2 linked regions of the Homo sapiens genome follow. The protein of the gene in region 1 purifies or fractionates together with the protein of each later gene. This does not show direct contact. Each region holds a gene or a part of one and is shown on either strand. Other genes may lie near its edges.

Region 1 (7,027 bases):
TAGTTTTTGGAGTACACTTTATTATTATTACCGTCAGCCAGTACATGATTTTCCATTGCCTTATACGTTTTCCACTGTAGCATTAAAAAAAAAATTTTTTTTTTATTATTACACTGTAAGTTCTGGGATGCATGTGTAGAACGTGCAGGTTTATTACATAGGTATACACGTGCCGTGGAGGTTTGCTGCACCCATCAACCCATCATCTACGTTAGGTATTTCTGCTAATGCTCTCCCTCCCCTAGCCCCCAACCACCTGACCGACCCCGGTGTGTGATGTTCCCCTTCCTGTGTCCATGTGTTCTTATTGTTCAACTCCCACTTATGAGTGAAAACATGTGGTGTTTGGTTTTCTGTTCCTGTGTTAGTTTGCTGAGAACGATGGTTTCTAGCTTCATCCATTTCTCTACAAAGGACATGAACTCATCCTTTTTTATGGCTGCTACTGTAGCATATTTTTAGCTTTAAAATTCCAATTAGTCTCAGGTGAATTGTTAATGACAGACAGGTGTGACTTAGTAGAAAAAACTGGAGAGACAGTTGAAGTAATCTTTCTCATATTTTTCAGTGGCTAGATAGCATGTCTGTAATTTCTTAACTCTTTAGTTTCTTCTATTTCAAAACATGATAATGATCTCAAATATAACCTTCCTCCCAAAATCTCAGGGATACTTTACCAATCTATTGTTTGCTTTGGTGGGATTATAATAACTGTGATATAGGTTGGGAGGCCAAGGTGGGTGGATCACCTGAGGTCAGGAGTTCGAGATCAGCCTGGCCAATGTGGCAAAACCCCTGTCTCTACTAAAAATACAAAAAAATTAGCTGGGCGTGGTGGGACGCGCCTGTAATCACAGCTACTCAGGAGGCTGAGGCAGGAGAATCGATGAACCTGGGAGTTAGAGGTTGCATTGAGCCAAGATCGCACCACCGCACTCCAGCCTTGGCGACAGAGCGGGACTCTGTCTCAAAAATAAATAAATAAATAAATAAATAAATATGATATGATATGGGATATTCAAAGGTGTTAATGTTGTAAGGAAAGGAAAAATAACATTTCATATAAGGAGGAAAGGGTTGATGGAAAGCATAATCTATTATTGTGCCTGATCTTTGAGCTGCTAGGCACCTTATCAGAATGCTGTTTGAGGAGTGTTTTCATTATGTTTAAAGCTTTCAGAGAAAGTAGGATTTTCTGATACAAGTAGAAAAATAGAAAAAAGTAGATATGTTTTTCTACTTTTAAGAAGGGAAGGCTTACTAGGAATTATTTTTAAATGAATGAAAGAGTAGAAGGAGGAAGAATAGGCAGTATCCGTGTGTGATTTCTCTGTGTCAAACACCATAGATGTAGTTTTTTATGCACATTTTCTCTAATTCTCAAAACAGTGCTTAGATTATAATATCTGTGTTTGCATATTATGAAATTAAGGCTCAGAAAAGTTAAGAAATTTGTCTAGCATCATATAGTTAGGAGATAAAATTTTGTACCCAGAAATCTCTAACTCTGTATACCACACTGTGTATCAAACTAATGAGAAAGAATAGTGACACCAACGGTTAGGACTTCAGACATTTACATTTGTGCTGAATGTAGAAGAGGGTGCTTAACACTTGAAATGCGTGCTCAAGTACAATAGTTAATAATATGAGATTGTGTGGGGTATGATTGTGTGCCTCATCCCTGTTTATTGTATGCCCCAAGATTCTTTCATCTGCTGCAAAAAAGCACAGTGCAGATTATGTGTGGTATCACAGCAGGCATTACGGGCATGGGTATGCCTTCTGGATGCAAGGGTGGAATTGGAGGTGCTGTAGCCTTTAGAGGAGAAACCCACTTGCCTTGTTCAAATCAGTTGGCGTATAATGGTGGAAAGTTGTTATATTTGTTTATAATGATATGAGTTGAGCAAACTTGCTTGTTTTTTAAATTTTACGAATTTTAACTTTAAGTTCTTGGAACCAAGTGCTTTATTCCAAATAGGATATGATAATTATATTGACAAGTGTTGAACAATATGTCATTGTAACAGTTTTTCTTTGTGTAATTGACTTCAATAATCTTGAGGGTGTTTTCTGCACCTATTGTTAGAAAAGTTGGAGTGCCCTTGTAAGGGTTGGAGTGAGTGGTTCTTCTCTTGCCATTATAATTGACTGTAGTTAGCATATGGTCTAATTTATTTTAAGAGCACCTCTTAATAAGCCTTGATTTTGTTGAAAATCAGGCTAAAACCATCTTCCTTGCACTTCCTCATTACTTGGTTGTTAGCATAATATTAACTATTATTAGATCCCACATATCTCTTTATCTTGATCTAAAGAACATTGTTAGGGCTAGGAGTCCTGCAGTTTTCATTTAACCCATTTGTGATCTCTTGTGAGGAGGATGGAGCTATTGGTTATATGCCTGAATCATTTGGGAGGTATATATACTAATTTTTGCTGTTGAACCTCAAAGAACAATCAGGTTAGAAATACGAAGTAAGACTTAGAACGTTAAGCCTATGCCTGGGAGGCAGAATGTATATATATTAACCAGAGATGCTTGCATGTAGGGAGAATGCTGGAGAACCAGACTCCTGGAGCAGTTTATCCTATGAAATACCGTATGGAGACTGTTCTGTGAGGCATCATCGAGAGTTGGACATCTATACATTAACCTCTGAGTCTGATTCACATCATGAACACCCATTTCCTGGAGACGGTTGCACTGGACCAATTTTTAAACTTATGAACATCCAACAGCAACTAATGGTAAGTCAGAAAGCTTTTATTTTTAAGTATATGCATGTGTATGTGTGTGTTTTGTATGTGTGTGTCCCCGCCCTCCTCCAATGAACCTTGATATAATTAGAACATAAAAATGCTTTCCTGGTGGGAGGCTGAGACGGGCGGATCACGAGGTCAGGAGATGGAGACCATCCTGGCTAACACGGTGAAACCCTGTCTCTACTAAAAATACAAAAAATTGGCCGGCCTGGTGGCGGGCGCCTGTAGTCCCAGCTACTCGGAAGGCTGAGGCAGGAGAATGGCGTGAACCCAGGAGGCGGAGCTTGCAGTGAGCCGAGATCACGCCATTGCACTCTAGCCTGGGCAACAGAGCGAGACTCCGTCTCAAAAAAAAAAAAACTTTCCTGGCCAGGCACAGTGGCTCATGCCTGTAATCCCAGCACTTTGGAAGGGCCAACACAGGTGGATCACTTGAGCTCAGGAGTTTGAGACCAGCCTGGGCAACATGGAGAAACTCTGGCTCTACAGAAGTTAGCTGGGCATGGTGGCGTACGCCTATAGTCCCAGCTACTTGGGGGTCTGAGGCAGGCAGATCATGTGAGCCTGGGAGGCAGAGGTTGCAGTGAGCTGAGATGACACCACTGCACTCCTGCCGGGGTGACAGAGCAAGACCTTGTCTCAAAAACAGAAAAAGAAGGACTTTCCCCAAAGATTCTGAGACCTGTAAAGCAGTATTAGCAGTATTAAATGTTACCACTTACAGATCAGAGCTAGCATTAAGGTTGTAGCCGTAGGGGGACTGAGAGGTTTTTTTCATTGGTTTTGGGAATAATGGAAGACACACATTTCAGGTACAGAAATATGCAACAACTAGAACTAAATTTCTGGCATAAAAGGATATTTGTCTGTGTTTGGCTTAACTTTACAAAATGAAAGAACCAACAGTTTCTGAGATTGTTGCCAAAGAACAAGAACCAAATTTAATCAGGAGTATTTTTACAACTATTTTAGTGGCGATGATATGTACCATTTAAATATAGTGTTACTATATTTAAATCAATAGTTGTATGGTACAAAGATAGCTAAAAAAAACAGAAAAGATTTTATAATCCACTCAAGTCTTCAAGATAAAGTTGTTGCCAGACATAAAAACATTACAGACTCCCTGTTAGCATTTATTACGAATAACATAAACGTCATATGTGTACATCTCTCTTGGGCATAACATCTGAAAGGCTGTGTTTAGGTAATTTTTCCACCCAGTTTATTTCAGAGCTGATTTGATTTGGAAACCACTGGACAGTAATTTCATTTAAGGTCAGCTCAATGCCAGAGGCTTCTTTGGGAGCATGCATTATTTGAGACCAGCAAGCCAAGAAATTCCATAGGGTTATGTGATGCTCCCACTTTTGTGTTTTAGAATTGTGTTTGTTCCAGAGCACGTGACATTTCATTTTCCTCTGAATGGACTTCTAGGCAATCAGGTTTTTCCTTAGAGCTCTTTTTACTAGGTGAATGGTAGTTCACTTGAAAATATAGTTTTGCAGGTACCAAAGCTACCTGCCAAGATATGGAAATGGTTGGCAGGCAAATACGAGAAATTAAAACTGTGGGAACATACATGTGCTACTTTCTTTAGGCAACACTACTTGTTTCGCCAGATTTCTGTTTTATAATGTTTACCATTTATTAAATTTAATGACTTCATTTCCTGATTTTTAGGAGACTGTCGTACTCTCAGCAGGACTGGAAATAAGCTAATTTTGAATACTCTTAAGGAGCCTAACACAGAAGCTTTTAGTGAAAGTCCATTTTGCTTGTACACTCTACTAGAAAGACTTTAACAAGCATGACACATTTTACACTTGTACATATAAACTTTTACAATAGGCTCAGTAGGTAGATAGGAATGGTCTGATGATGGAACCCTGTAAGTGCCCAATATATTCACTGAGTGAGTAGGTGAATGAGAGGATGGATGGCAGTAGGTATGCATATTATTGCAGTAGATCAGGTAATGAATGAATGGCGAGCAAACCAGATGTTTGGAAAAATAGATTTTAGGTGTTGAGAAAATATTTTTATAAGAATTTTTGAAATTTTGATATAAAGGTAAAATCACTAAAGATCACCTGTATTTGTTTTTCTCCATTTTAAACCTTGCTGCATGCACATGGGATTTTTGCATATTTATAAACTTAGATTAATAATTTTTTTCTAATTGCAATATGGTCCTCATAGTTAATAATGGCTAGTATTTCTTCCATCAGTTTTATGAACCTTGATTTTCTTAATCATTCCCATGCTGTTGGTTATATCTGTTTATATTTTTTAAATACTTTAAAGTTGCAAAATCCATTTTTGAGATTACATATAGTATCCATAATATACTCTGACAGTATATAGGTATATGTTCTCATTTATTTTATATTTAATATGTTCTGATTTTATCAAAAGGTGAAAGAATATCTGCCATGCCACTGTTCCTGAAATTATGACCCCATAACTCGATGGTTAAGTTAGATTGGTTGGAACATATTTTGGGGATTAAAGGACACTGAACTCAGTAAGTATTTAGGGCACAGGCACATTGGCTGCACCTTGTAATGGAAAAGAGCTAGGATTTGTTTTTACTTGTATATATGAGGCAGGGTGTAAGTAGACTCTGCCCTTCTGAAGACAATGAAAAATATAGGTGGGACACAGTGGTGTAGGCCCTATAATCCCAGCACTTTGGGAGACCAAGGTAGGAGGATCCCATAGGCTCAGGTGTTGGAGAACAGCCTGGGCAACATAGTGAGACCCCGTCTCTACAAAAAATAAAACAATTAGTCAGGTGCAATGGTGCACACCTGTAGTCCTAGCTACTGAAGAGGCTGAGGCGGCAGGGTCACTTGAGCCCAGGAGTTCAAGGCTGCGGTGAGCTGTGATCACACCACTGCACTTCAGCCTGGCCTCAGAATGAGAGAGCCCACCTTAATGTTAGCAGCTCAATTGAAGATATTCACTGAGCTTTTTAAAAATCAGGTTTTTGAGACTCTTTTATTTTTATTTTTTTTAAGACGGAGTTTTGCTCTTATTGCCCAGGCTGGAGTGCAGTGGTGCTGTCTCGGCTCACTGCAACCTCCGCCTCCCGGGTACAAGCAATTCTCCTGCCTCAGCCTCCCAAGTAGCTGAGATTACAGGCATGCACCACTACGCCCAGCTAATTTTGTATTTTTAGTAGAGACAGGGTTTCTCCATGTTGAGGCTGGTCTCGAACTCCTGACCTCAGGTGATCTGCCTGCCTCAGCCTCCCAAAGTGCTGGGATTACAGGCATGAGCCACCATGCCCGGCGAGACTCAGTTTTCATCTACTTCCTAAAATAAGTTCAAAATTTAGAAAATAGATATTTCATATATCCTAATCTATTTTGAACATCCCAGTATATAGGCAGATATGAAAGGAAAGTAATATCAGAAATAAGAGGAAATTTATTTGTATTCTTTTAGATTCGCTTATCATGTGACCTTAGAAGAGCTAGAATAGAAGTGAGTTCTGTCCAACAGAATTTTTGCTCAGAGGTGTCAGTGACATCTTCTCCTACAGGCAGTTTTTTAAAAGTGTATTTCATTTCCTCCTAGAAAACAAACCTCAAGCAGATGGACAGTCTTATGCCCTTAATGATGACAGCACAGGATCCTTCCAGTGCCCCAGAGACAGATGGCCAGTTTCTTCCCTGTGCACCGGAGCCCACGGACCCTCAGCGACTTTCTTCTTCTGAAGAGACTGAGAGCACTCAGTGCTGCCCAGGGAGCCCTGTTGCACAGACTGAAAGTCCCTGTGATTTGTCAAGCATAGTTGAGGAGGAGAATACAGACCGTTCCTGTAGGAAGAAAAATAAAGGCGTGGAAAGAAAAGGGGAAGAGGTGGAGCCAGCACCTATTGTGGACTCTGGAACTGTATCTGATCAAGACAGCTGCCTTCAGAGCTTGCCTGATTGTGGAGTAAAGGGCACGGAAGGCCTTTCGTCCTGTGGAAACAGAAATGAAGAAACTGGAACAAAATCTTCTGGAATGCCCACAGACCAGGAGTCCCTGAGCAGTGGAGATGCTGTGCTTCAGAGAGACTTGGTCATGGAGCCAGGCACAGCCCAGTATTCCTCTGGAGGTGAACTGGGAGGCATTTCAACAACAAATGTCAGTACCCCAGACACTGCAGGGGAAATGGAACATGGGCTCATGAACCCAGATGCCACTGTTTGGAAGAATGTGCTTCAGGGAGGGGAAAGTACAAAGGAAAGATTTGAGAACTCTA
Region 2 (7,027 bases), on another chromosome or scaffold:
GCTTTGATGGCATGCTTTTTATTAATTCCGCTGAAAACTGTGAGCTTAGCCTGGGCCATCTCAACTACATGAACTCTGCAGTAATGACAGAACCAGGACATTGACATGACAATGTGCAGCCACAGAACCACGAGCCAAGTCAGCTCTGGGCACAGGACGCTGAGGCCGGGTGTCTGGGCCTTTGTCTCAGAAAGGCACATGCCAGCTTGTCATTTTCAGCTTTTAGAATCAATCCACAGGCAAAACATAACAGAGAATTATGATTACAGAAGAATATAAATGTTACTAACAGTGTAAAAGTAAAGAGAAAAGAGGGCTGAAGGGAAGGCTGGGCGCTCTGCAAGACCAGCACCCAGGGACACCATCCACAAGCAATGAGACAAGAGCATGAAGCAAAGTGACATTACTGAGGGACAAAGGTCGGTCTCTAAGGGAGGGATTAAAGACATCACCATGCCTGTGACAGGAAACTGGGGCAGGAGAGGCACAGGATGGTATACATAAGCTAAACTCCCATCTGGCGTAGGCCAAGAGGAAATAATTTAAATTGATACATCTAAAAATAATGATGTAAGAATACTAATCAGTAATACTGAAGTAAAATGCAGAATAGCTACGAGTGAAAAAGGACAGCATAAGGGACAATGTGATTAGAAGCCCTTCCATTTTAAAAACATGTTTAACCCTAAGTGCCAGTATGCTGATAAGAGTATCTACTGAAGAAGGAAGACAGGAACCCGCAGCCTCCTGGCTCCTACCTGTAGACTGCTCGATGTCTGCGAGTCTCCACATGGTGAGCTTCTCGGTGTGGTCGGGCTGGCTGGGGTAGCCAGGAGCCGGGCGGATGCCCTTGTACCGCAGCCTGCGCAGGTCTGCGACGTCCAGCTGCTCACTGCCACAGTAGGCCCACAGTTCTCGGCGAACTCTTTCATGGAGCTCTTCTGCAAAGGCCTTGGGACCCAAAGCAGCAGGCATGCTTAGGCAGACGCAGGGGCTCACAGCATCAGTGCAGCCTCCACCCCCTGAATTAGAACCATGAGGACACCCTCCCTCATCTGGACCACAGCCAGGGGAAATTTGACAAGAGGAAACAGGCTGGATTCTTGATTGGTTTGTACTTTCATCAGCTGCTGCTCTGCAGCTCAATTTTGGCCTCAACCTGAGCTCTGAAGGACCATACTTAATGACCTAAAGATTTTAGACCTTAAAATTAACGATTTCCCTAAAGGTCAATCCAAAGCTCCACGGGCCAGAAAGAGCAGCTGGGACCATACAGCTGCTAGTTCCTCCACTGTTCACTGCAGGAAAAGGGAGAGGCTCTCCCCAGGGCAAAGGCTACTACCCTCATTCCATGCAGAGGAAGATGAAGAATCTATAGATGACACCAGCATTACAACGAGGGGCTCTGAAATAAAAATTTGTTTTTAATTTTTTGGGGTACTGAGGAAAATGTCACATCACAACAAGCAAAGAGAGACAACAGAGATAAGGTAGAGATAAAGGCTCTAAGAGCAACAGCCAACTGTGGCACCATTCAAGGTTTTTCTTTGCCTCAAAGATAATGTACACAAGCAATCTGGGGATACATAATATTAAAATACGTATAATGTTAAAGCCAGCAGCATCCATCTCAAGAAAAAAAAAAAAAAAGACACTGGTTCTAAGGGCTGATCAGTCTTCAGGCACCCACCCCAGGCTCCCTACTGCCTGGCCTCTGTCCTCAGCCCCTCGGCGCAATGCCTCTGCCTTACCTCTGCCAGCCGGTCCCCCAGCGCCTTGACCATGATGCTGCTGTAGTCGTCACCATCATCCTCATAGGCCTTGCTCAGCTCTTCTACCCCAAAGCAGGCAACGGCAAACAGGCCCAGGTAGTCACGGATGCCAGAATGCAAGGGAGCGATGAAGTCTGAGAGGCAGTAGTATGGCTCCGTGCTGGCAGAGTCCTTCTCAGCCTTAAAACCAAGGAGTGTAGGAGTGTGCGGGGGCGCCGTTAGCAAGAACGTGGCGCCAGCACACCATGAAGAGCAATCGGGTATCGTCAAATGAGAATAAGCTTCACAACGCACAGATGGCAGCCTGTATTGTGCACTGTTACATCCCCAGTACTTGGAATTGTGTCTGACACATAGTGAGTATCCAATAAATATTTGTAAGATAAACAAATGAAATGAGATTTTTAAAAAATGTATGACATGACGTAACATAAATTGTCAAGACACCAGTTCACTGGCTCATTCACACACTGACCAAACATTTACTGAATGCCTTCAGGCACTGTGCTAAAGTCACGGTTTAAAAAAAAAAAAAAATTTGTCCCCAAGTGTTTTCAATTAAGTCCAGCACCATGTTCAAAAGAGATCCAATAAATGGAAGCGCCTCCACTCTCCATCAACAGCAGCAGCTCAAACAACAAACTGTTGGGGTCAGCGATGCCCAGGCCATGTGCTGCCTGCCATGTGGGGTGGGGTCAAGGGTCATACAGGAGCCGGCTGAGGACACCCAGGGCTGGCTGGGCACCAAACCAAGAATTCAGCAGGATTTGCTTCTGGATTTTCTCCACAGCCCTGGGGCCTACCCTCCCCCATTTTTCACCCTCAGCTCATAAGCAACTCTTCCCTGCAACTAAGGTAACAAATAAAGTCTTATACATATTAAAAAAATCAATAAATATTTGCTGAGAAGGTAAATAGCTTATAATACTCATTCAGTGGTTACTGTATGCCTGCTCTTGGTGCTTTATATGAATTACTATTTAACCCTCTCAACCACCTTGTGACATAGGTGATACCATCAGCTCCATTTTACAGACAAGAAATCAGGGGCATAGGAAGCTTGATCAACTGGCCCAAGGTCAGACAGTGGGAGGGGCCAGGGGGCTGGTACCACAACCCATGCGTCTACATATATGGTACTGCTCAGGACTGATCAATTAATCAATGAGTGGCCAACCCACACACTTCACAGCTCGTTGCCCGCCGTGGAAGCAAGTACAGCTTCATTGACACAGGGCAGGAAATTGTTAAGTACAGGCGAGGAGGTGTTTGGTAATGGCACACAGGAATGTCACAGAGCTCAGGGACAGCTGTGCATGGGGAAGCCGTTTTCCAGGTATACTCGGCCCATCAATTATTCTTTGCTAACAAAGGCCAGAGGGGGACCCAAAGCTTCCCTGCGCCACAGGAGAGAGAGATCACAGAGCCCCATGGTACCTTCGAAGAGACAGCAATCAGAGCCTACTCAGAAGAGCAGACTCCCAGAGTAATAAGGCACTGCCACCAGAATGTTCCAGAGTGCACTGGAGGAAAGCCCCTCCTGAGAAATTGCTACCTGGGTAGGTAATGTATGTGCCTGGCCCAGTTCCCCTCTCCAGAGGCTACTAAAAAGGTGAACTCTGAGAATTCATTCTATTAAATGCCCTAATATGTCACAGACTGCCCGGACATGAATGGTACTGAAAGTAAAAAGAGATCGCAGAGGACACAGGACTTGAAAGATGAAAGACTGGGCTAGAGCAGAGGTTTTTGAACAGTTATGTCTGTAAAAGAATAGCCACAAATTCCCTAGTGAGGAGGGGCTGGAACTTAACATTAGAACCCCAGTGCCTTATATTCTGTGGCGTCCGAGCCTGGGCGCATACAGTGAGGATTTACTGAGCCTAAGTGCATATGGTAAGGATGTAGCTGTCCTTGTTTAATTCTTCATGGTACTGCTGAAGGCCCCAAATTTAAGAATCCCTTCAGATGCTGTTATGGTAAAAATATGGATGATTATGAATTATATTGTGGTTGGGATTAAAATGCGCCACTATCTTTTTTGTTTGTTTTTTAGAGACAGGGTCTCACTCTGTTGCCCAGGTTGGAATACAGTGGCATGATCATGGCTTACTGCAGCCTCGATCTCCTAGGCTCAAGTGATCCTCCCGCCTCATCCTCCCGAGTAGCTGGCTGAAGAAGTACAGGCCTGCACTCCCCAGTGCACGGCTCATTTTTAAATTTGTTTTGTAGAGACAGGGTCTTGCCATCTTGCCGGGGCTAGTCTCAAACTCCTAGGCTCAAGCAATCCTCCCACCTTGGCCTCTCAAAGTGCTGGGATTACAGGTGTGAGCCACTGTGCCCAGCCAACATTATTATTTCTGAACGACTGAAAATGGCAGTAAAACAGAGTAATTTTCTGCAAATTATTAAATTTGTTAATGACTCTGGTGAATTCTGGTTCCAATTCTTGATTAAGACACTCTTTTTTACAGCAGCTAAAGGGACATGCATATGATATTTGCCTTTTCAAAGGTGGGGGGGATGAGAGACAAGTTGCTGAGAAGAGTCTGTTCTCGTCACTCGAAAGAAAAAAAGCCAGCACAGTCAAAGAACGGCCACTGGGGATATGTACAGGCTGGGCTCTCCTCTCTATATTGGGGGGCCCAGCACAATCTCCATCATCCTTCATCTTCTCTGTAAAACACAAACTTAAACTGCCTCACACGGCTGTGTGGAAATTAAAAGCATGACCATCAAGCACCTTACTATGCACCTGGCACCTGGTATACATTCTGCAAATGTTTGTTTCCACCTGTCTTCCCCTTTCAAGGGAAGCCACCTGACAGTCTATTTTAATAATATGCATAGATATTAACCTACGTTTTTGAACAAGTGAGTGTTCTCTTTCTTCAGAAGCTAAGAAGACTGAGATCCTGACACGTGACCACCTGAGACAGCAGCAATGGTCCTCGCCCATCCATGGAACACAATATTAAACGCCTCACTCCTGCTGAGTGGTCCTGCCTCTGACACCCATGGTGGCGCCTTCTCTCCCTCGTCCTCACAGATGGCTTGGGCTTGGGCGTGTGACTGGTCACTTCTTGGGCATGTGATTGGTCATTTGGGAGGAGGTGAAGCAGACCCTCATTTATGCAAAGCTCTTTTGTGTAGTGCTTAAACTCACAAGCGAAAGCGGTGTGCTGGCTGTCAGTACACCTTCCATACCTGTTGCCTTAACCCATAGAAGGTGGCTATGGGCTCTGCAGCCTGGGGCACAGCAGCCTCTGCGTACAGGTGAATGTCGTCTTGGATACTCTGTGCTGGCCAGAACCCAACCACACCCCGGGCCCGGAGTTTCTTTTGACTAATCAGTGTGTTCAGCATATTGTGGGCATCATCGTAGACCTTCCTGGCCTCTCCACCTATTAGAAAAACAGAATTAGAATTCACTTAAAGATGCCAAAAATAACCATCAAACAATGCTTCTTTTAAAAGCCATTACCCCTCCTCAGTCACCTTCCCTCTTCAGGCTTCTCCATTTTCCTCAAATGCTTTCTGGTGTTTGCCACTGACCCAGCTTAAAGTGGAACAGCCAGGGCTTTGCGGCTCCTGCTAAGTGCAGCTCCCACAGTCTGCTTCTCCCAGTTCAAGCCACTCAAGTTTTCCACTGGACAAAAAGCAGAGAGCCAAAGCTGTGGCTCCCCAAAGCATTCTGTCAGAGAGGATGAGAAAGAGCAGGCCACATTCCTCACTGACATTCCTCGTGCACATACAACTCCACTGACTTTGCAGTGACCTCTGGGAGACGCGACCTGTGCCTCGTATTCCGTGGTGCTTTTAATCCCAACTACAATATAATTCGTAACGATTGACATTTTGACCGTAACAACCTCTGAAGGGATTCTTCAATTTGGGGCCTTCAACAGTACCATGAAGAGTTAAACAAGGACAGCTACATCCTCACCCTATGCACTCAGACTCGGTAAATCCTCACTGTATGCGTCCAGGCCCAGACACCACAGAATACAAAGCATGGTGAATATAAGGCACAGGCCCCGTCCCCCAGAGGTCGCTGTGAAGTCAGTGGAATTGTATGTGTACAGGGAACGTTAGTGGTAAGGGGTGAAGTGTGGCCCAAATCCTCACATGTGGCTTCAATGCTGCACCTGGGCTGGCCTGCTCCCGGACCTGCAGTGGGAGCCAGCCTCCGAGGACACCATCTCGGTTTCCGTGAGACTCGGCCACCCTGCCCATGGTGAGAAGCCTGTCCCACGGCCCCTGGACAGCTCACCTGTGATGATTCAGGGGCAGCACACTAAGAAGCCCCTTGCTCATCACCACGTTCCTGACTACCTGAGAGTTCCTGAGTCTCAGCATCCGAACACGCACACCCAGGCACGCCCCCCCGTGGGAAACTTGGCAAAAGGCTGGTTTCTAGGCTCCTCTCAGCCCTAATCCCATGCTTCTGTGAGTCTACCCCTCCCTGCTGCTCTGATCTGGCTACTACCTGATCCTTTGAATGGCTTTGCATTTGGATTCCGTGTCTCTGTCGGTGGATTCTGGGGTAAGGCTAGAAGTGAGAAGTGGGGGTAGTAATTTAACACCTCACTTACTTCTCTAGTTTATCACCCTAAATCCCCATTCCCTCCCCAATGCTCCAAGCACAATGGGCTCCTTGCAGTTCCCCAAATAGGCACATGTGCCTGTGCCTTCTCACACTGTCTCCTCTACCTGGAATGACCTTTTCTTCAACACCATATCACATCCACAGTCCCAGCCACGGCAACTCCCACTGAATCGTCAAAAACAGTTCGAACACCACCTTGTCCAGGAAGCCTGCCCTGACCTCCCAGTCTGAGCTCTATCTCCTCTTATGTCCACAGGAGCCCAGGCAGGGCCCATTACTATTGGATGTGCCAGCTAGTCAGGTGCTAGACAGCAGGGATTATATTGTCTTCCATTTATCCCTAGTGCTCAGCATGTAACTGATGTCAATAAACATTTATTGAAAGAATAAAGTAAATACCAAATTTAGTTGATGCAATAAGGACCAATCTAGCAGATTGAAAACCATTAAAAAGTTGGGCAGGTGAGCAATATGAAAGCAGCCGTAATCTGCACAATCCAAATCCACTGCTCCTCACCGATTCCGGTCTTCAAAGTCACAATCCCACAGCTTGAATATCAGAGGCAGAAAGGAAGGACTTACTGCACTAACCTACTGTTTTGTCGTTAAATATCTTGGGAAAGCCTCGATTCGGGTACTTGCCCCG

What was found. The genes of interacting proteins can lie anywhere in the genome.
Region 2: the proteins of AKAP13 (region 1) and MTR purify together in Homo sapiens (affinity purification with mass spectrometry; 3 studies listed by BioGRID and IntAct, with this or other methods). This does not show direct contact.

What each region holds. Positions count from the first base shown.
Region 1 is NC_000015.10:85,572,576-85,579,602, forward strand, and holds part of AKAP13 (A-kinase anchor protein 13), read left to right. Parts: intron 1-2,555; coding exon 2,556-2,754; intron 2,755-6,354; coding exon 6,355-7,027. UniProt on the Homo sapiens protein: Scaffold protein that plays an important role in assembling signaling complexes downstream of several types of G protein-coupled receptors.
Region 2 is NC_000001.11:236,889,282-236,896,308, reverse strand, and holds part of MTR (methionine synthase), read right to left. Parts: coding exon 6,973-7,027; intron 5,177-6,972; coding exon 4,980-5,176; intron 1,953-4,979; coding exon 1,752-1,952; intron 952-1,751; coding exon 759-951; intron 1-758. UniProt on the Homo sapiens protein: Catalyzes the transfer of a methyl group from methylcob(III)alamin (MeCbl) to homocysteine, yielding enzyme-bound cob(I)alamin and methionine in the cytosol. MeCbl is an active form of cobalamin (vitamin B12) used as a cofactor for methionine biosynthesis.